Linked DNA regions of Homo sapiens. The protein of the gene in region 1 interacts with the protein of each later gene in a pairwise test. Each region holds a gene or a part of one and is shown in the gene's direction. Other genes may lie near its edges.

The links. Proteins that work in one complex are often made in the same cells at the same time.
Region 2: the proteins of SGTA (region 1) and VIP interact in binary tests that used the Homo sapiens proteins (3 or more experiments, as listed by UniProt).

What each region holds. Positions count from the first base shown.
Region 1 is NC_000019.10:2,768,893-2,774,535, reverse strand, and holds part of SGTA (small glutamine-rich tetratricopeptide repeat-containing protein alpha), read left to right. Parts: intron 1-5,444; 5' UTR 5,445-5,467; coding exon 5,468-5,567; intron 5,568-5,643. UniProt on the Homo sapiens protein: Co-chaperone that binds misfolded and hydrophobic patches-containing client proteins in the cytosol. Mediates their targeting to the endoplasmic reticulum but also regulates their sorting to the proteasome when targeting fails.
Region 2 is NC_000006.12:152,753,797-152,757,028, forward strand, and holds part of VIP (VIP peptides isoform 1 preproprotein), read left to right. Parts: intron 1-369; coding exon 370-492; intron 493-1,079; exon of another isoform or gene 1,080-1,472; coding exon 1,473-1,577; exon of another isoform or gene 1,578-2,337; coding exon 2,338-2,469; exon of another isoform or gene 2,470-3,232. UniProt on the Homo sapiens protein: PHM-27 and PHV-42 are two bioactive forms from proteolysis of the same precursor protein, that cause vasodilation. PHM-27 is a potent agonist of the calcitonin receptor CALCR, with similar efficacy as calcitonin.

The sequences.
Region 1 (5,643 bases):
ACCTACGTGTCTCGGGCCATTAGACATCTGTGCACTTAAAGTTAAAATGGACATTTGCATAGACGTGATAGGAAGTGTCGTTTTCTTATAAAAGAAGCTGCCCCTCGGGCAGCTGGCTCCTGGGACCGCAGCACAGTGAGCAACGCGCAGCTGCTCCCTCCCTCCGTGTCCCTCGGCCACCGCCCTTCACTGCTCCCTTCCGTGTGATGACAGCCCGTTTGTTCTCCTGTCTATGTGATCCTGGGCATGCGACCACGCGTCCCTGCCCAACCTGGCTCAGTTCAGCTGGAGACAGGGCCGACCCGCTTGTTGGAGTCGTCACGAGGACTGAGGTGCGTCCTGAGATGCCTGCTTGCCAGGTGTTAGTGTCGGTTTGCTGGGGCCGCGGTGACAGAGTGCCATAGACCAGGCAGCTGAAACAGAGTTCATCGTCTCTCAGTCCTGGAGGCCGGAAGTCCATGATCAAGGTTCTGTCGGGGCTCGTTCCTTGTGAGGACGTGAGGGCAATCTGGTGTCCCTGCCGTGTGGCCGCGTCACCCATCTCTGCCCTCGGTGTCCCTGCCCTGTGGCCGCGTCACCCATCTCTGCCCTCGGAGTCCCTGCCGTGTGGCCGCGTCACCCATCTCTGCCCTCGGAGTCCCTGCCGTGTGGCCGTGTCACCCACCTCTGCCCTCGGTGTCCCTGCCGTGTGGCCGCGTCACCCACCTCTGCCCTCGGTGTCCCTGCCGTGTGGCCGCGTCACCCACCTCTGCCCTCGGTGTCCCCGCCGTGTGGCCGCGTCACCCACCTCTGCCCTCGGTGTCCCCGCCGTGTGGCCGCGTCACCCATCTCTGCCCTCGGTGTCCCTGCCGTGTGGCCGCGTCACCCATCTCTGCCCTCGGTGTCCCTGCCCTGTGGCCGCGTCACCCATCTCTGCCCTCGGAGTCCCTGCCGTGTGGCCGTGTCACCCACCTCTGCCCTCGGTGTCCCTGCCGTGTGGCCGCGTCACCCACCTCTGCCCTCGGTGTCCCTGCCCTGTGGCCGCGTCACCCACCTCTGCCCTCGGTGTCCCTGCCGTGTGGCCGCGTCACCCATCTCTGCCCTCGGTGTCCCTGCCGTGTGGCCGCGTCACCCACCTCTGCCCTCGGAGTCCCTGCCGTGTGGCCGCGTCACCCACCTCTGCCCTCGGTGTCCCTGCCGTGTGGCCGCGTCACCCACCTCTGCCCTCGGTGTCCCCGCCGTGTGGCCGCGTCACCCATCTCTGCCCTCGGTGTCCCTGCCCTGTGGCCGCGTCACCCATCTCTGCCCTCGGTGTCCCTGCCGTGTGGCCGCGTCACCCATCTCTGCCCTCGGTGTCCCTGCCGTGTGGCCGCGTCACCCACCTCTGCCCTCGGAGTCCCTGCCGTGTGGCCGCGTCACCCACCTCTGCCCTCGGTGTCCCTGCCGTGTGGCCGCGTCACCCACCTCTGCCCTCGGTGTCCCTGCCGTGTGGCCGCGTCACCCATCTCTGCCCTCGGTGTCCCTGCCGTGTGGCCGCGTCACCCACCTCTGCCCTCGGAGTCCCTGCCGTGTGGCTGCGTCACCCACCTCTGCCCTCGGTGTCCCTGCCGTGTGGCCGCGTCACCCACCTCTGCCCTCGGTGTCCCTGCCCTGTGGCCGCGTCACCCATTTCTGCCCTCGGTGTCCCTGCCCTGTGGCCGCGTCACCCACCTCTGCCCTCGGTGTCCCTGCCCTGTGGCCGCGTCACCCATCTCTGCCCTCGGTGTCCCTGCCGTGTGGCCGCGTCACCCATTTCTGCCTTCACATCCACACAGTGTTCTCCCTGTGCATGCGTCTGCATCCAAATGTCCCCTTTTTATAAGGACATTGGTTATTGCTCTAGGGACCCGCCGTACACTGGTATGATGTCATCTTACCAAATTCTGTCCGCCAAGATCTTATTTCCAGGTGAGGTCGCATTCCAAGGTCCTGGCAGTTAGGACTTCAGTGTATGGATTTGGGGGACACAGTTCAGCACACGACAGTATTCAGCCCCTGGAGCCGCCTGTCAGCGTGGCTGCGCGCAGAGGGTCCCTGGGGCCCAGCTGGGGAGTGGGACCTGGCGGCAGAGACCCCTTGCACTGTGCTGGCTCAGAAGGAGGAGCCGTGGCCTCCTGGGTGCTGGGTCAGAGTTTCCTTGTAGGTGTTTGTGGCTTTAGTCACTTCTTGGAGAGCAGATCTGGGCACAGAGCAGAGAAGAATAAGAAATTATCCAGAGGCAGCTGTCACTGTAGAAGATTCCTTCAGGCCTCGCCCTTCCTCGTCCATCCCGAGGCTGGCGGCCTCTTGGCCAGGCCCTGTCTGACCCAGCCTGAATCCGAGCGTCTGATCTCAAACCTGTGCTTCTCCTCACGGTGGTTCCCCAGCTCCTGAGGCCTCAGGCCTGCCCCTTGCCTCATGCGTCTTGGCACACAGAGTGCAACTAAGAATAAGGTCCACTATGCACGGGCTGGGCCCGGCCCCGGAGGAAGGCCGGTGACACACAGCCCCGCCACCCTGTATGTCAGCCAGTGAGGGACAGAGATGGGGAAGACCCAGCTGCTCAGAGACACCAGAGGCCCTGGACAGGGAGTGGATTCCAGGGAAGGCGGCTGCCCAGCCCAGCCCGGAAGGAGCAGGTGGAGAAGGGAGGCCCAGCCAAGGGAACCTCATCGCAAGAACAGAGGATGGGGGTCCCATCCCACGGCCAGGGCCTCCCCAAGGGCTGCCCCTCCATGCGCCAGCACCACAGCAACCCCTCTCCATGCCTGCTTCTGGCCTCAGAGCAGGTTCTCCAAATGCTCCCAGTGAAACTGCACAGCCGGGCAGCGTTTCTGGAATAGCCTCAGCATGTGTTGATCTGGACACGGAGGGTGCACCAGCACCCGTCCACGTACCTGCCTGTGTGGGGGTGTTCACTCAGCGTTGTGCACGCCTGGTCTCGTACCCCTCCCCCCCCCCCCGATGGGGAGGTGCTGTCGCCATCCATGGGGGACAGAAGAGGAAACTGAGGCTCAGCAGAGTTAAGTCGCTTCCCCTAGGTCACACTGCCAAAAACAGCCAACCGAGGTCTATGCCACGAGACTCACCACGAGGAATCATGATTTTTTTTTTTTGACATGGAGTCTCACTCTGTTGCCAGGCTGGAGTGCAGTGGTGTGATCTCAGCTCACTGCAACCTCCAACTCCCTGGTTCAAGTGATTCTCCTGCCTCAGCCTCCCGAGTAGCTGGGATTACAGGCACGTGCCACCATGCCAGCTAATTTTTGTATTTTTAGTAGAGATGGGGTTTCACCGTGTTTGGCCAGGATGGTCTCTGTCTCCTGACCTCGTGATCTGCCTGCCTCGGCCTCCCAAAGTGCTGGGATTACAGGCGTGAGCCACCACGCCTGGCAGAATCGTGATATTAACAACAGATATCGCAGGGCGCCAAGCGCTGGGCTGACAGCTTCCGGGTTATTTTTTCCCCGACCCCTGACAGCAGCCACAATGGAGCTCCCCATTTTACAGACATGGAGGCGGAGGCTCAGGCCGAACAACCCGTCCGAGCTCACAGGCTTTGCAGGCCACGATCCGGGAACCGCCTGGCCTCTCCCTCACAACCCGGCTGGCTTAAAACAACCAAGATTGATTTCCCTCGCAGTTCTGGAGGCCAGAAGTCTGAGATGAAGGTGCAGGCTGGGCCACGTTCCCTCTGAAGGCCCCAAGGGAGGCTCCGTCCTGCCTCTTCCAGCTGCTGGGGGCCAGCGAGCCTCACCTCTCTTCGTGTGGCCACATGGCCTCAGCCTCTGCCTCCGTCTTCACGCGGCCGTCTCCGTGCGGCCATGTTCAATCCCTGCATTAGGGCCACCACAGCGACCTCATCTCCACTTGTTTCCATCTGCAAAGACACAGACAAGGTCCCGTGCTCAGGTCCCAGGTGGACGTGACTAGCCCAGAACTTGGCTGCTCCAGCGGCGGGGGCGGGGGCGGCTGCTTCTCCACGCAGCTTGTTACATCTGAATGTTTAGAGTCACCATCGCCAGCCTTCGGGGGAAATGGAGGCACAGTGAGGCCAAGCCTTCCTGAGCTGGCGCCTCAAGGCAGCCGGCCAGCCTGCCCCGGGGGAAGCTCACGTCGGGGCTTCCTGCTCAGAGCCGTGAAGGTCACTGTGGCCGAGGCCCCTCCAAGTTGGCCCAGGCACCCAGGAAACCTGTGTGAAAGGTCTTGTACTAAAAAAAGACCTGTCCATAGACTACAGCTCCAGATTCCAGAACAGCCTCTCCTGATGTCACCATCTGGCACCCTTTAGAGCTTTGGCAGGAAACTGCAGGGACCACAGACATGAGCAGAAGCAGCTGTCAAGTCCTGGGAATGAGGAACAAGACAGGGTATCCGAGGGGGGACCAGGCGGATGTCCGAGGGGGAACCAGGAGGGTTTCTGAGAGGGAACCAGGAGGGTGTCCGAGGGGGCATCCAGGAGGGTATCCGGGGGGGAACCAGGCGGGTGTCCGAGGGGGGCACAGGCGGGTGTCCGAGGGGGGCACAGGCGGGTGTCCGAGGGGGGAACCAGGCGGGTGTCCGAGGGGGGAACTAGGCGGGTGTCCGAGGGGGGAACCAGGCGGGTGTCCGGTGGGGGAACCAGGCTGGTGTCCGCTGGGGGAACCAGGAGGGTGTCCGGTGGGGGAACCAGGCTGGTGTCCGCTGGGGGAACCAGGAGGGTGTCCGCTGGGGGAACCAGGAGGGTGTCAGGTGGGGGAACCAGGCGGGTGTCCGAGGGGGGCACAGGAGGGTGTCCGAGGGGGAACTAGAGGGGGGTCTGAGGTGGAATGAGGTAGGTAGGCCTCCCAGGGGGAACAAGACGGGTCCCCAAGAAGTCCCTGGGGGGAGTCCTCTGCAAGTCCTGTGAAACAGTGATACCAGGGCAGGCACACCTGGCCCCGTTGGGTACCTAAGAAATGCTTGCTGACATGCCACAAAAGAGGTAAATTGAGGAAAGGGGCAGTGGCTCTGGCTGAGGACAAGGTCTCTCCCTCTCAGCACTGTGGACATTGGGGCTGGATCGTTCTCTGGAGTGGAGCTGTCCTGGGCACTGCAGGGTGCTGGGCAGCATCCCTGGCCCCCACCCACCTCATGCCAGAAGCAGGGGCGGAGGGGACCTCCGTGGCGCCTCAGTACCACCCTGGGAGTGCTCAGGAGGCCCTGGGAGCACGCGGGTTCTCTAGGGCAGGCCCTGCTTGCCTGCTGGCCTCACACTTTCTGGCTGTGTGCATAGCCGGATTGGTGAGCTCTGGGCCTCAGGTCATCATCTGTGAAATGGGCGTATTAAGGCCTTTCTACCTGGGCTGTCCTGGAGCTGAGATCAGCCAGCACCCTTAAAGTGAGGCCCAGCTAGTTAGGGGCAGGCCTGGGGTGCCTGGAGTGGGGAGTGTGAGGGGGCCTGATGGGGGTTTTTCCTGCACCCCCAGGTATCACCTCTTCTGGGCTCAAGATGGACAACAAGAAGCGCCTGGCCTACGCCATCATCCAGTTCCTGCATGACCAGCTCCGGCACGGGGGCCTCTCGTCCGATGCTCAGGAGAGCTTGGAAGGTAGGTGGGTGCCTGCCACTTCCCCCTCTCCCCGGGCAGCGGCCAGCACAGTCGCCTCGTGTAGACACCTGGTGTG
Region 2 (3,232 bases), on another chromosome or scaffold:
TCTATTTTGCATAAAATATTTCTACATACGAAATTTGACTTTGCAAAGTGAAGATATTCTTGGCATAGTAAATTACACCAAAGAAGTATAGTTTGCTTAATGCTCTGATAAGATTGAATTAAGTAGCTCTTGTGTTTTGTATATTCAGCTTATAAAAGTCATATGGCATCTACTTTATAGGATAATAGGAATTTCCTATTTATACTCTCATTAACTATATGAGCCATTAAGTCAAATTATGCTATTCTCATATTATGACTGGGTAATACTTCCCAAGAGTCTAAGTATCTTATTTTAAATGGTTGCGGAACCATACACACTGTCTTCTGAAAAAAGAATGTATTATTCTCGTGTAACTTTCCCCATCAGGTTGGGTGACAGAATACCCTTTGAGGGAGCAAATGAACCTGATCAAGTTTCATTAAAAGAAGACATTGACATGTTGCAAAATGCATTAGCTGAAAATGACACACCCTATTATGATGTATCCAGGTGAGTTTATTTTTATAAAACTATCCAATGAGTTTTATTTTAGAAAATGTGTTTAAGAACTATAAACGTGCTTATTTTATCTCACCATGAAGCTATTCCGATAGCAAAACACTAGAGGTTTCTATGTGTCATGGCTTCATTCATCCTGATTTACTGCAGATCTTACAGCTGTACATAATTTTCATACTGAAAGGTTGTAACAAGCCAGGATGAACACACCATTCACTTCCATTCTGTTGCACATAATTCCAACATCACAGATTGTACCAATTCTGATAAAAGTACAGCATTTAGCATTCCAATGATGGAAGAGTTGCCAAGGAGTTTTGTCTCTATATAAAGAAAAGATACCTGATAGAGCTGTTCATTCATAGAGCTGTTTGTCTAGAGCATCATTTCAAGTACAGACCAAGTAGCTCTATAGTACTTGGTACAGACAAAGTATAAAAGGTGCTTCATTTGAAAGAGAAAAGGTGGGATGATAGGCCTTAATGCCTTCTCTATCTTAAGAGATTTTGTTTCCAAATATTTTGGAAAAAGAAAAAAAAAGGTGTACTGGGGTTTATGAACTTTCCAAAATCAGAATATTTTCCCATTGTGAATGTCTTTATTCAGTGGGGCAGACACAAAGCACCATGTACAAATAGCAGCTAATTTAAATAGATCATATTTTTACACCAATATTTCTTAGAAAGAAATAGTTATAAAGATTCAACCATGGAGGAATATTGAAATGTGCTCCTAGAAATGCCTGTTTCTTTAATTTTTCAGTGTCTTGGGCTAGAAATATAGGGTATATCTTGATATAAGTGACTAGAAGATCTCTTTTGTTAGGGTGTTAAGAAATCTCCTTTTGAACTTTAGTTTTAATGAGAAGCTTTCATAATAAGCCCATAATTTTTTTGTTATTTAATAAGCCATAATAATATTCTAGAAAGCCATTTACAAAATAATAGCTATTTTTTTCTTCCTTGTTTTAGAAATGCCAGGCATGCTGATGGAGTTTTCACCAGTGACTTCAGTAAACTCTTGGGTCAACTTTCTGCCAAAAAGTACCTTGAGTCTCTTATGGGAAAACGTGTTAGGTAAAGAGAATTTATTATTTTTATAAAATATGTTATCATTATTCAATCTGAATATTGTATTTTCACTCTTAACAAGTTATTTACTTTGTTTGAAATTGAAAACTCGTTGATAATGTTTAATTTAGTTAAATGAAATAACTTGTATTCTTCAATAACATCTATCAAGCCCATGGACTAAGACTTTTTCATAATATCATATTCATTGACTCCAGACACACATTTTTCTCAAGTAGCAATCATTTAGCAATCTGCAATCAAATTGAACAAGACTCAGTAAAACAATCAAAAAGAGATAGTACAGACTGAGGTAAATTTTAAGGTCAAACAGAATATTCTTTTTACTTCCTGCTCAAATTAAATGGAGAATTCCAAATGGCCAACAGTCAAATATTTAGATGACGTTGCTCAGGGTAGCATAGCTTCTAAAGAAGTAATTATGTTTTTTTTAAAAAAAAAAAAAATTTCTCCCAATGGCAGAGCACAACTTCAGCTATTCCCAAATTTTTATTTTTGGATGAATTATTTGCTCAGCTGTACAGAATGTGTCATAAAACAGTCCCAGGCCATGCCAAAATATGGCAGATGATTCCTTGCTTTCCTTCATCCTTAGGTTTAGTTGTATTTTTCTTTTAGTCTTTTTATGATAGAAAATTAGTTGGGTGGGAATTGCTTTTTATGTGGCTCCAAGAAACCTGGAACATGTGTGTATTTATCATTTCTTGTGAAAACTCTTTGATTTCCTTTTCCTCATGTTCCTTAGCAGTAACATCTCAGAAGACCCTGTACCAGTCAAACGTCACTCAGATGCAGTCTTCACTGACAACTATACCCGCCTTAGAAAACAAATGGCTGTAAAGAAATATTTGAACTCAATTCTGAATGGAAAGAGGAGGTAAAGAAAAAGAGAACTTGCTAAAATGAGGAATCATGACTGACTTTCAAAATAGAAGCTGCACATGGAGACCTCTCTATCTCACTTATCTAGCTATACTACGTGAAGCAGTGATTTTCAACCTTGGCTGACATTAGACTACCCCGCAGAACTTTAAAAATACAGATGTCTGGGCCTTCTCCCAAACCAATTGCCAGGAAATCGGTGTCTTCGGTGGTGTGGCCCTAGACATACATTTCTTTTAAGAGTTCCCCAGTTGACTTTACTATGCTGCCAGTGTTAAAAATGATGACTATACAGACATCTAGTCTGAATCTAAGAGCAAGTTTCATCAAAAGTGATGATTTTTAAAACATGTAAAGCATAGTCAATTGCAATTTGGTAACACATGGAACTCACTTCGTGTGCATATTCACTACTGTTATTTAATCAAATTAAACCATTAGGTATTTTGTATATTTAGATTCTGTAAAATCTATATCTCTCTATGGTGTGTAAATATTGGACACAATACATAAACAGTGTAGTGTTCTGTCTTTTTATTCCAATTGTTTTTGTTTAAGTGATGAGTATTAAGGATAATTCTGTTTGGGTGTGATCAGACAAGATGACCTCTTTGCCCACTAGATGATAATTCTGTGAGAATAATTTTAGAAACTCTAAGATTGATGAATAATTCATAGGTACTAACAAACCTCAAAGATAATTGTTTAGCCTCCCCATACACTTTCAGAGCACAGAGAACAGCACATTCATTATGTCA